3 separate regions of the Homo sapiens genome follow, and all the other regions are linked to region 2. Evidence: fine-mapped expression QTL. A gene starts in region 2. Each other region holds a variant in brackets. All regions are shown on one strand. Distances are between the middles of the regions.

Region 1 (4,000 bases), 48 kb before region 2:
GGCAGGATAAAGAGCCCGTGGAGCACCAGCCCGCACACCACGGTGACTGAGTAGAAGCCCAGCTTCTTGCCGACGGCCCTGGGGTCGTCCATCTCCAGGATCTTACCCGCAATGAGGAACACAATGCCGAAGGGGAAATACCTGGGGGCGGCGGGGCAGCCAGGCTCAGGAACCAGGCAGGCAGACACACCCCGGCCCCAGCCCCGCATCGCTGCGCGGCCTTCCCCCTGAGCTTCCTGGGGCTCCTGCGAGGACAGAGCGAGACTGCCAAGGTGCCCGGCCCAGGCTCAGCACATGGCGTCCTTCATACCGTTACTTCCACCGCCCCAGCTCCAGACAACCTCTGCCACTCCTTCCCCCGCCCTGCCTTCAGGAGGCCCCCATTTCAGGCCCAACAACGCCAGAGTCTACACAGTGCGCCTGGGCAGCCCTCCCTCTGCGTTCCCCACTGAGCTCCTGGACTCTGAACTGTGGGCCGAGGACTCTGAACTGTGGGCTAGTCCTTACCGCCAGCTTTCCTTTCTCCAAAAGCTGAGCTGATAAGGCTCCATGTGATGGAGAAACTGAGCCCAGGAGAGCAGCAGAGCCGGGCAGAGCTCTTAGACCAGGCTGGAAGGGGCAGGCCCAGGGCCGGAGCCAGGCCTGGCTGGGGCTGGGGGACCCATGGAAACACATGTAGCTCCGGAGGCCCCGGCCCAGGGCTGAGCCTGGGCACAGCTTTCTGCTCACTTTACGGGAGAAGAGGGTGGGGTCTTGTCTTCCCTCCATCCACCCAGGGCTGGCCGGGGTGAGGTGGGTAAATGAGGAGGCTTACCACACAGCCACCGCCACGATCTTCATGACCGACTCATTGAGGCACTGGCAGAAGCTGACCAGGGGGGCCCCGCTGTCACCCATGCGGCCCAGCATGATGCCTGCGGGTCAGGGACACAGTGCTGTGGTAAAGCAGGGACAGACCCACAGGCCCACATGGGTCTCAGCATGGCTGGCTTCCCAGCAGCCTTGATGCTCCAGCACTCCCCCCACTCCCCCCACTCTCTCTCTCCCTCTCTCCTCCTCCACTCTACTACCGATCCCACAGTGCTCTCACGTCCTCCTCTCTCACCTTCCTCCACGCAGCAGCCAATGTCACCTCCTCAGGATAAAAGTGCTCCCTGCCAAGTGCACCCCTGGCTTCGCTGTGCGCTTAGGCCATGACAAGCTCCCCGCTGCCTCACCCAGCTCGATGCCTCAGCCCCACTCGAGTGGGCCCTGCCTGCCTCTCCCTCCTGCTCCTGCCCATCTCACTGTGCCCTGGCACCACTGGCCTTCTTTAAGTTTCTGGAAGGAGGGAGTCCAGCTCTTCACTGCCTCAGGGCCTTTGCGCAAGCCGTTTACACAGTGCCCCAGGCACTGGCTGCCCGCTCTCCAAACAGCTTGGAAGCCATCCCCGATCCCCTTTGCAAACTCCCATTTATTCTTCAATATCTCACCTCTTAGGGCCTATTACAACATAACTGTCTGGGTTTTTTCCCGTCTCCTCTGCGAGGTTAGCTCAGCGAGAGCAAGAACTGCATCTCCTTAGCTGGAGCATGTTAGACGCACAGTGGTCAATGGTGAGTGAGGACTAGGGCCTTTCCTGATGCTCCTGGCGCCTCCCCCGGCATTCTAGGCCTTCCTCCCCAGCTCGCACACACCAGGAAAGGGTGGTGTGGGAACGGCTCCGTGGGGTGAGCTCTGTCAGGCCAGTCCTGAAACAGGGACTGAGTGGCTGCCCTACCTCCTGGTGAGACCGACGTGGGGAGCAGAGCACTCTCTACAGCTGCCCTCATGAGGCCCACTGTCATGGTGCTGGGGCTCAGCTAGGGAGGCAGGGTGGGATTCAAACCCTGGCCTGTGGGACACCAGAGAAGGGCTCTTTCCCTGTCCTGAGAAGCCTGAGCCACACAGTCCATGGAGCAGCTACCCCGTGGTGACGGAGTGAGGTGAGGGCCCTGCCAGGG[T/C]GGGTAGGAGAGGCTGGAGTTGGAGGTGACCCTGGGCCTACCCCGCCCGCCTGTCTTCCTGCCGCCTGGCTGATGCAGACCCAGACTCCCCTGCCGGCTCCGCCCTCCCCGGGCTCCACCACCACCACGCACGGGCTTCCTGCCCCTCCTCAGGCCCATTTGGATTTTCCCAGGGGCATCCGAGGACTGGCTGCTGGGAGCCAGTGTGCATGGAACCCTAGTGTGGCACGGGGGCTCCCTCACGGCAGGGCCAGCAGGACCTTAGCACCAGCCACATCCCAGGGATGGGGTGGGGAAAGGAGGCTGGGTTGAGGGAACCAAAGAAAGCCCTGCTCGGAGCCGCTGTGCTAGTGTGCTCACTCACACACGCGGGCAGACACTGGTATCTGCACCAACAGGCACAGGCACCGGCAGATGTGGACACTGACAGGCACAGGCACACACAGAAGCAGGTGCACACAGACACAGGCACGGAAAGACCAGGCACACGCTGATGCGGGGACACAGGAATGCAGCTGCACCCAGACATGAGCACAGGCAGATGTGGGCACACGCAGGCATGAGCACACACAGACGCAGGTGCACATAGACACAGGCACAGGTAAGCCAGGCGCATGCTGATGGGGGAACACAGGGACACAGGTGCACACAGACACAGGCACGGAGAGGCCAGGCACACACTGATGCAGGGACACAGAGATGCACGTGCACACAGACACAGGCACTGGCAGATGTGGGCACATAAAGGCATGAGCATACACAGTAAGCCACACCCTGCCTTGGTACACTCACACACCCTGCCTTGGTACACTCACACACCCCGCCTTGGTACACTCACACACCTTGCCTCAGTACATTCACACCGCCTCGGTACACTCACACACTCTGCCTCGTTACACTCACACCGCCTCGGTACACTCAACTCGCCTTGGTACACTCACCCTGCCTCGATACACTCACACACCCCGCCTCGTTACACACACACTGCCTTGGTACACTTAAACCCGCCTCAGTACACTCACACAACCTGCCTAGGTACACTCACACACCCCAGCTCAATACACTCACACACCCTGCCTCGGTACACACACACAACTTGCCTCGGTACACTCAACTGCCTCGGTACACTCACTCCACCTTGTTACACTCACACACCCCACCTCGGTACATTCACCCCGACTTGGTACACTCACACACACTGCCTCGGTACACTCACACACACCACCTCAGTACACTCACACCACCTTGGTACATTCACATCGCCTCGGTACACTCACACAACCCGCCTCGGTACACTCACACAAACTGCCTTGGTACAGTCACACCACCTCGGTGCATTCACACACACCACCTTGGTACACACACACCCCGCCTCAGTACACTCACTCCACCTCAGTACACTCACACAACTCGCCTCGGTACACTCAACTGCCTCAGTACACTCACACTGCCTTGGTATGCTCACACCCCCCCACCTCATTACACTCACACACCCCACCTCAGTACATTCACCCCGCCTTGGTACACTCACACACACCACCTCGGTACACCCACATGCCCCACGTTGTTACTTTCACGCGCCTAGCCTCGATACACTCACACACCCTGCCTTGGTACACTCAAACCATGCATCTGTACACTCACACACACCGACTCGGTACACTCACACTGTCTCGGTAAACTCACCCCATCTTGGTACACTCACACACCCTGTCTCAGTACACTCACACCACCTTGGTACACTCACACATCCCGCCTAGGTACACTCACACGCCTCGCCTCGGTACACTCACACACCCTGCCTCGGTACACTCACACACCTTGCTTCATTACAATTACACACCCCACCTTAGCACACTCACACACTCCACCTCGGTACACTCACACGCACATAAACCCCAGCTCAGTACACTCACACCCCATGCCTCAGTACACTCACACACTCCACTTCGATACACTCACACACCCTGCCTTGGTAAACTTACACACCACTTCAGTACACATACCACTTCGGTACA
Region 2 (4,267 bases):
GGTACATAAGGGAGGGAGGGGGAAGTAACACGTAGTAAGCACCTACTGTATGCTGGGCATTGATGAATCCTTGGTTTATTCCTCATAATAATTCTAGTAGACATATACTGCCCCACATCCCATTTTACAGACAAGGAAACTGAGGCCCAGGGAGGAGAGAGGATATTGCCTAGCCATTTGCTAGCAGAGTCAAAGTTCAGGGTTTCTCTGCCTCCAGAGTCCATGCTTCTTCCTAAATAACTGCTCGAGGCTTAACAGGGTCACTATAGTCGTGGCTCAGTTCTCCAGGAGTGGGTGTTTTCCTTTTAATGGAAGACAAAGTCTAATGCCTGACCCCAGTTGTAGAGATGGCATTAGACATTAGTGAGCTGCGGGAAGAGGACTTTCTGGGAATAGGGACTCTTCCAGGAGCCCATTGACAAAGCCTCTCTCCTTGACCACACTTTAGACAGGCTCCTCTGAGCCCTCTTTTCCACTGGGCTTTGTCCTTGGGCCTTGTCTTCAGCCTGCATAGTCCAGCTGTAGCAAAAGTCCTGCCAAGTCAGTTTAGTGAGGATCCCTCACCCTCCAGCATCCTGATACTGGATCAAATTCCTCATCCCAGATCAATGTCTGATCACCCTGGCCTGCCTTCAACAAGAATCCCCCTACCCTGATGTCTCCTGTAGTCATTTTCTGTCCCCGACCCCCTCCCTCTGCTCGCTGGCTATAAATCTCCAGCCATCTTTGTTGTATTTGTGGTTGGGTCCCATCTCTCTCCCCAGGAGGTCTTGATAACTACCCCCCTACCACAATAGTCCTGAATAGAGCCTTCCTTACCAGTTTAACTAGTGGCAGAATGATTTTGTCCTTAACACCATGGGAATGTCCCTCCCTCTCCTGTAGGAGATGGGGGCTGACAGGGAAAGGGGCTCTTTCCCAGGAAACGCAGCTTCTTCATGGCAGTTACACAGGCTGGAAACCCGGGGCCTGGCTCCCCTTCCTGTCCCCCAGCCCACATCCAATCGGCCCCCACATCCTGAAGCTCCCCCTTTTGAAAACAGTTCTCACGTCTGTCCCTTTTGTCTGCACTGCCGCATCTCCCCCAGGCTGCCCCTTCTCGGCCCCCTGCCTGCCCCAGAATCACCCCCTCTCCACTCAGCACCTGAGGGGTCTCCCAAGCTCCAAACTGGCCTGTCGCTCTTCTGCCCAAAAGCATCTCATGGTTGCCGCAAGCCCACGTGTGGCGATGGGACCTATGGGCCTGCTGGCCTCTGCGCTCCGGCCGCTGCACCTGGCATCTGCTGTCACCTCTGCCTAGAGCACGCTTCCTGGATCTCTTGTCATTTGAGCAGCCTTTAGGAGGTGTTCTCTGGTGCCTGTTTGAACTCACACAAGACCCCCCTCTTTCCCCGCCACAGCTCTTGGCCCTGTGTTTGTCATCATGAGGCACCCTCGCCTCTCCTCACCTGATGGTGCTGGGTTTGTAATCACTCCCCAGCCACATCACTGGTTCTTCCCTCTAGTCCTGCAAAGTGTTTATCACACCCATGTTACAGATGAGAAAACCAGGACCCAGAGAGGCAGAGGGATTCACACACTGTCATGGCACCAGGGAGCTGTGATGCTAGAACGGGACCCCAGATCCCTCAGGCCCACACGCCCCTCCTGGACAGGGGTCCCGAGATGCTCTGGGTGGCTGACCTGTGGTGAGAGGCGCCGGGTCCTCAAGAAGAAGCCGAGGAGGCAGCCCACGATGACAGACAGCACAGACAGGATGAGGAGTCCATTCCGCCTGCACACGTCCCTCCCCCGTGCCAAGATGGCATGCGGCACCATGGTGAGCCTGGCCTGCTGGCAAGGGGCACAGCACCATTCCACGCATGAGAGCCCGGCCGGGGGCACAGGGTCTGGGCTGAGGGCTCTAGCCCCTCAGCAGGCAGGTGGTCGGAGTTGCTAAACACCAGTCGCCAGCCCCACGGCCATGCCCGTGTGGCCGCCTTAGAGGGAAGCCACAATCCTATTACCAGCTGCATCATTAGGAGCTGGGAGCAGATTAGGGCCTGGGAAATTAGAGCAGACCACGTGGTCTAGGAGTTCAGGCCTCAAAGCCAAGCGTTCCTCTTAAACAGTTGAGTGGACCAGGTACTGGAAGGAACAAGAGGAACATTTGCTTGGTTGGTTTGATCTTTACCCCTGCTTCCTTCCAGAAAGAATCAAAAACAAGACAGTAAGATATCAGTTTCCCTCAACATTAATTAAGCATTTACTATGCACCAGGTGCCATTCTAGAAGAGTGTTACATGTACTGGCATATTTAATCCTAACACCAATCCCAAGAAATAAGTACTATTAATATCACCATTTTACAGATAAAGAAACTGAGGTGGGTGGGTGCATGTGCTGCGGGCCAGGCCTGTGCTGGCTGCCTTAGCTATGCCAATCATAGGGAATTGTCCCAAAGATCCCAGGGTTCCCACCTTCATTTTTCAGAAAGGGAGGCTGAGACCCCAGAAGCCAGTCCCTTGGCCATGGTCACAGAGGTCAGAAGTCAGGGCTAGGCCAGTCTGTTTCCACCACATGAACAGGCAGATAGGTTCAAGGGTGCTTGGCAGTATTGTGGGGAATGTAGATTCGAGTCCAGGGGACCTGAGTTCAAAGGTGGGCTGTGCCACTCACCGGGAAATGGGACGTAGATGCTTCAGGGCTGTTTCAAGCCTGGTGCTGGGCACCCTGCAGGCTCTCTGGGCCTATTATTTTTTAAAGATGACAGAGCCCAAGAGACCCACATTCGGGTCCCAGCTCTGCCACTTACTAGCTGTGTGACCTCAGACAAGCATTTCATCTCACTGTGCCTCAGTTTCTCCATCTGTAAAATAGAGATGATAACAGCATCTACTTTGTTAGGGCTGGTACAAAATTCCACCCAGAGGGTATTTGGAAACGCAGTGTGAACCCTGGTGTGCTGAACAGGGGAACGGACTCTTAGGGTCATTATCACACTTAGTGCTTTGGAGAATAGGTGTCTTTTTGCTATTTCTTGTGGCCTGGCCTGCCCTGCCCTGTAAAGCCTGGGGGAATTAACCCTCGTCTATTTCACCAGAGATCTGTAATCTCATTAGGAGCAGTCAGGCAGCAGGCAGCAGGGAATGGGAAGTGCAGTCTGCAGTGAGGGTGGGAGGTAAAGGGTGGGGTGCACACAGGGGCTTCCTCCTCCTGACATAGGAGACAGGGGCAGAGGATGAAGAGGACGGGCCAAGTGGGGCATAGGGGAGAGGTGGGGAGAGGGGACTGGGGCACAGGCTCTGAAGCCATGGACAGAGCTCCTGACTGAGAAGATTCTGATCCCAATTTAATCAGCTCTGTGACCTTGCCGTCTCTGGGTATCAGTCTTGTCCTTTTTAGAATGAGAGAAATGGGCCCAGGTACCTTTGTCAAAGGAACTTCATTTCAACAAACCAATCTTCCAAAGCCCCTGCTCTTTGCAGTAGCTTGGGGTGGGGGGTGGGGGTGAATACAAGTCTGAGAGTTTTTTTTCCTCTGACTTTGACTCTTAAAACCAAAAGTTTCTTGCTACACCTTCAACTCCAACAAATGCCTCATTTTCCAAATAATCAGGTGGTTAGTTACTTCCCAGAAGAGAAAATATGCTAAGTAGGTATTTGGATTTGGGTTTTGATCAACTCCTGGGCTCAAACAATCCTCCCATCTTGGCCTCCTAACGTGTTGGGACTGCAGGCATGAGCCACCACACCCAGCCCAGACCTGGCCTTTAGCTGTGCCATGATATAGGTGAGTCTTGCTTTCTACCACAGCTCCATGACTCCCATTCCCAGGACGTGCCCTATAGCCACCACTGACTCCTCTCTCCCACAGGCTGAGCCTACCACTACCTGCCTACCAGACTACAGCCATTCTTTCCACTGTTCCTACGGTCTTCAACAGGAGAATTTCAACTCACTCTAGCAAATGTTCTTATAGCACCATTTAGTGTGCCACACCCCCTGGGTACTAGAAACACAACAGTGAATCAGACAGTACCTGCCCTGCCTTCAGGAAGCTTATAAGAAAGTGGAGAGACCCCAAGAACGGACTAATTCACACTAAAGTGTAAGTGACTGATAATGAGTTTACTAAGAATATTTGCAAATCAAATCAAGTCTCCTGGGTCAGAACCCTATAATAGTTCACCATTGACAAAGAATCAACTGCCTTTTACAATGTCACTAGATGTGCAAGACAATTTTTCCATAATTACATCAAAAGGAAGTTTGGGAAATGCTGGACG
Region 3 (4,232 bases), 54 kb before region 2:
CACCCCTGGGAGGAGGGTGGAAGGAGTTCAGGAATGGGGCAGTGGGAGCAGGTGCCCTCTTGACGCTGAGTGACCTGGGGGAGGCCTGTCCCCTCCCTGGGCCTTAGTGTCTTCAAGGGCATCATGGTGCAAGCCCCTCCAGACCCCAGAGCTGTATCTTCTCCCCAAGGCATATCTGGAACAGGCTGTGTTGCCAGGGCCCTTCTGTGTGCCCTGCAGGCCTCCTGGAGGCAGCCTGGGGTGTGAGAATGAGGGAGACCATCTGGAAATGTCCCTGGGCACGCCCCTGTCTAAAGCAAAGCATTCACCACGGGGAGCCAGACTGGGAAGGAAATCTGTTTCTTCTTTGGGGACTGATCTCAAGGCCCTGCCTGCAGAGCAGAGCCTAGACCATGGCAGAGAGGTCTGTCCACACTGGACGATGCCCAGCTGCCCTGTGGTTATTGAGACAGGCTCCTGGGTAGGCTAGCTTATACTCTGTCTTCTGCATGTGACAGCTCAGATAGGACTGTCCTTACTGCAGCCACCAGGACAGGCTTCTCTGCACTCTGGCTGCCCATACAGGCCTGTCCACACACTGGCAGCCTAGACAGACCTGTCTACACTCCAGCCAAATGGACAAGCCTGTTAGATTCTGGCCACCTGCATAGGCCCGCCCATATCCTGGCTGCCCAGACAGGCCCGTCTGCACTCTGGCCGCCTGTATTAATTAGCCCAGTAGCTAATATCATATTTGCTGGCTAGCATAAGGTGTTGAAGCCCACAAGAAGTGAAAAACAAAATACCTTTATTTAGTTAACACTGAATTTGCAAACACAGAAAGGAATAGAAAACCTGACTCCACTTGGACGCACAGGCCTTTGGGGAGTTCTGACACCAGGGCCCCATCGGCAGCTCCACCAGAGCATCCTGGCTGCACCTCCTTCCCGGAGTCCTGGCTTGCCTACCTATTCCATGGGAGGTTGGCCTGGATGTGTCAAGGGGGCCTTTCAGCTCTAGTAAAGACATCTGTCTCCACATCCAAGGAGCTTTGCAAAAGACACGTGGCAGGACAGGAGACTGGACGCACTGTGGCCTGGGGAAGGCAGCGGGGCTTGGCCCTGGGCTGCTCCCCTTGGGGAGAACTGTGTGGCTGAGGCCACCTGTTATGGGGTGGGGCCTGGGCCTGGACACAGCTGCAGGCTGCCCTGTCCTCCAAGAGGAGAGGCGGGGCTTGAAAGATTTGAGTTAGTGTCTTGACCTTAACGTGAGACCTTGGACAAGTGTTTTCAGCTCTCAGAGCCTCAAGTCTGTCATCCAGAAAGTGGGGCCGGATAACCCCTGCCTGCCGCCCTCACCGGGCTCACACCGGGGAAACTGTCACAGCGGGGCCTCAGGCAATGCCGGGCCCATCACTCCCTAGATGGGGCTCCCCCATGCAGCCTTTCCCTTCTCTGAGATACATTTTCCGTCAAGCGGGGTTAATTCCAGCCTCTCAAGGGTGAGAAGAATGTGTGATCCTGGCCCCTGCCGGCTGCTCAGGAGGGTTGGAGAGTCGAGTTCCTGCCTCAGGACCCTGCCCCTGGAGGCCTCGCCTGCCCCTGCAGCTCCGCAGGCTCAGACATTGGTCTCCAGCTCACTGATCTGGATGGTGCAGTGGTTCAGACTCGCAGCGGGCAGCTCCTCATCCTGCTCCACTTGAACGGGGACGTGGTGGGGGCAGGTGGGGCCCAGGGTGAGCTCGGAGGCCTCGGCTACACTCTTCACACAGCCATTCTGCTGGGCTGCCACGATCTCCTGGAGGCTCACTGGCTTGGTCTCGCAGGGCAGCAGTTTCTGGTGAAGGGAAACAGGTCTTTGTAGCAGCAGGAGGGACCAAGGTTAGATACGAGGGAGGACTGAGGGCCAGTGGGGCAGAATGAGCTCAGGGCTAGGAACCACAAGATGGATTTTCCTGCAGACACGCTGTGTGACCTCGGCAGGTCACGGCCTCCCTGGGCTCCTGTTCCCAAGCGTCCTGCCTCCCACTGGAGCTGGCTTAGTAGAGGAGGGGACTTAATCCACAGGGTCCATCTGGGGAATTGGTGGATCCCCTGCCTGACCTCAGCTTCTTCCCCATGATGTGGGGACAGCCTTCTCCATTTGCCTGTAGAAGGAGCCTGAAGCCCACACAGCCTGCACAGACCTACAAATGCTCACATGTTGGCTAAACTGGACAGACCATCCCGACACGAGGGCGGG[G/A]AATTTTATCATATCTTGTTCTACTGTTCCTCCTGTGTCTATATCAGCGCCAGCCACAGCGGGTGCTCAATAAATAGATGTTAGAGGAATCAGTCATTCTGTAACGGATGAGGAGACCGAGGCCCAGAGGCATGGAGGGAGGGATTGGCTGGAGGCTGCCGAGCTGGTTGGTGGAAGATCTGGTGCCCTGCCCACCCTGCGTGGCTCCACCCTCCTGGCAGCCTCTGGATCTCACTGCTCTCACCTCGGTGCCTGTGTCCCGGGCAAAATCCTTCCGACATATATGGGCCATGATCCCCGCTGCCAGCGCATCACCCAGCACGTTAATCATGGTGCGGAAACGGTCCCTGGTGAGCCAAGGTTGGGGGTGAGTGGTGGGCACTTGAAGGGGAGCTGGAAGAGGGCAGTGCTCAACCCAGCACAGTACAGCACGGCCGGTGACCAGCTGTCATGCAAAGCCTGCAGCCAGATGGCTTCCTGGCTCCTCCCAAGCCCACCCTTTGGCATCATTGAAGCAGCTTCTTGGCATGCAGCTGTGGGTTCCACAGGTCCCCATGCTTAGAAGGGTTAGGTTTGGTTTAATCCTCTGCTGTTTCTGTCTTGAAATTCTTTATAGGTTTGTTTTTTGTTTGTTTGTTTGTTTGTTTTTTGAGACAGAGTCTTGCTCTGTCACTCAGGCTGGAGTGCAGTGGCGCCATCTCGGCTTACTGAAACCTCCATCTCCCAGGTTCAGGTAATTCTCGTGCCTCAGCCACCTGAATAGCTGGGATTACAGGCACATGTCACCAGTCCCAGCTAATTTTTTCTTTTCTAATTTTTAGTAGAGATGGGGATTTTACTGTGTTGCCCAGGCTGGGCTCTGGAATTCCTGGGCTCAAGGAATGCTCCTGCCATGGCCTCTCAAAGTTCTGGGACATATAGGCGTGAGTCATCATGCCTGGCCTTTACAGTTTTTGGACTGGGTTCCACATTTTCATTTTTGAACACTGGACCCCACAAATTATGCAGCCAGGCCTGTGCTAATGAGTAGGGCACTCCCACAGTGCCAAGCGGGGCAGTCCCCAGCCTTCTACCCTGGGGAAGGGACTCAGCCGCTCACCCTGATCCCTGCTGACCCTGAAGTCAGCCCCTCCCAGAGGGCTAGAGCTAGAGGCAAAGTCCACTCACAGAGCCCAGTCAACGGCAATGATGAGGGTGATGTCATCGGTGGGCAGTCCCACGGAGGTGAGCACGATGACCATGGTGACGAGGCCGGCCTGGGGGATGCCAGCTGCCCCAATGCTGGCTGCAGTGGCTGTGATACTGCAGGGGGTGGGAAGGGGAAGAGGAGCAGCAGGAGGGGCAGGGTGCATTGTCAGGGTCTGGCTCCAAGGAAGAGGTTGAGTGTCAGGGCCTCTGGGACAGCCATTTGGTGCGGGGGGTGGGTAGGAATGCCACACCAGGGAGCTCTCGGGGTCAAGTCCCTCCTCACAGTCCTGAAGCCCCATGGACCCCCATTCCTGGCCTCAGGAGAATCCCTGGGAACTGTGCAAACACCTGTGTCTGGAGCTGTGCCTCTGTGGGTTCCAGGAAGCTATATTGCTATGGGGCTGCCCAGGGACTCTGACTGACCACCACATGGCTCTGCCTGCCTGCCTCTGGGGCCTGGCCTCCAGGGTCAGACCTGTGTGCTTGGCTGGGCTGTGAGGCCTCCGTCAGCCTCAGCCGCATCCCAGCACCCCTTCGTTGGCTCCTGCCACACGGGCGGCCTCTCCAAGGTCCTGAGTCCTGTCCCTGGCCTCCGCTCGCCCTGTGGCCACCAGCAATGCCCTCCCTCCCGGGCTGTCCTCCAGGCTCGGAGCTCCCAGCCCTGGCCCTCTGCCTGCTGTGCTCCGAGCCCAGGCTCGCTCGCTTCAGATACCCCTCAAGTCTGGGAGCCTGGGAATCCCCAAGGCCCCCAGCCCCCGCCCCATCCACCCAGGTGCAGTGTCAGGGTGCACCTGATGGTGATGATCTGGCCAAAGTCCAGCTCG

Which allele goes with the higher level. Alleles are on the strand shown, and positions count from the first base shown. SD is a standard deviation of normalised expression in the study named. Not every link is listed here.
As copies of A replace G in region 3, the expression in tibial nerve of the gene that starts at base 2,007 in region 2 goes up (moderate effect, 0.60 SD a copy in GTEx).

Evidence for each region. PIP is the estimated chance that this variant, and not a neighbour inherited with it, causes the effect.
Region 1: its variant is fine-mapped to the expression of SLC1A7 in tibial nerve (GTEx, PIP above 0.99). The same link has a PIP of 0.9 or more in testis.
Region 3: its variant is fine-mapped to the expression of SLC1A7 in tibial nerve (GTEx, PIP above 0.99). The same link has a PIP of 0.9 or more in breast, esophagus mucosa, sigmoid colon, subcutaneous fat, sun-exposed skin and testis.

What each region holds. Positions count from the first base shown.
Region 1 is chr1:53,092,647-53,096,646 of GRCh38, forward strand. SLC1A7 (solute carrier family 1 member 7) reads right to left here. Exons shown (of 11, transcript NM_006671.6): 6 at 815-914; 7 at 1-141. Among named protein-coding and RNA genes, the nearest start is that of PODN, 32 kb to the left of the region's middle. RefSeq lists an enhancer at 2,240-2,777. The variant T/C (reference allele first, on the strand shown) is at 1,983.
Region 2 is chr1:53,140,632-53,144,898 of GRCh38, forward strand. SLC1A7 (solute carrier family 1 member 7) reads right to left here and starts at 2,007. Exons shown (of 11, transcript NM_006671.6): 1 at 1,684-2,007. The coding sequence starts at 1,818.
Region 3 is chr1:53,086,413-53,090,644 of GRCh38, forward strand. SLC1A7 (solute carrier family 1 member 7) reads right to left here. Exons shown (of 11, transcript NM_006671.6): 8 at 4,200-4,232; 9 at 3,388-3,522; 10 at 2,465-2,567; 11 at 771-1,815. The coding sequence ends at 1,597. Among named protein-coding and RNA genes, the nearest start is that of PODN, 26 kb to the left of the region's middle. The variant G/A (reference allele first, on the strand shown) is at 2,221.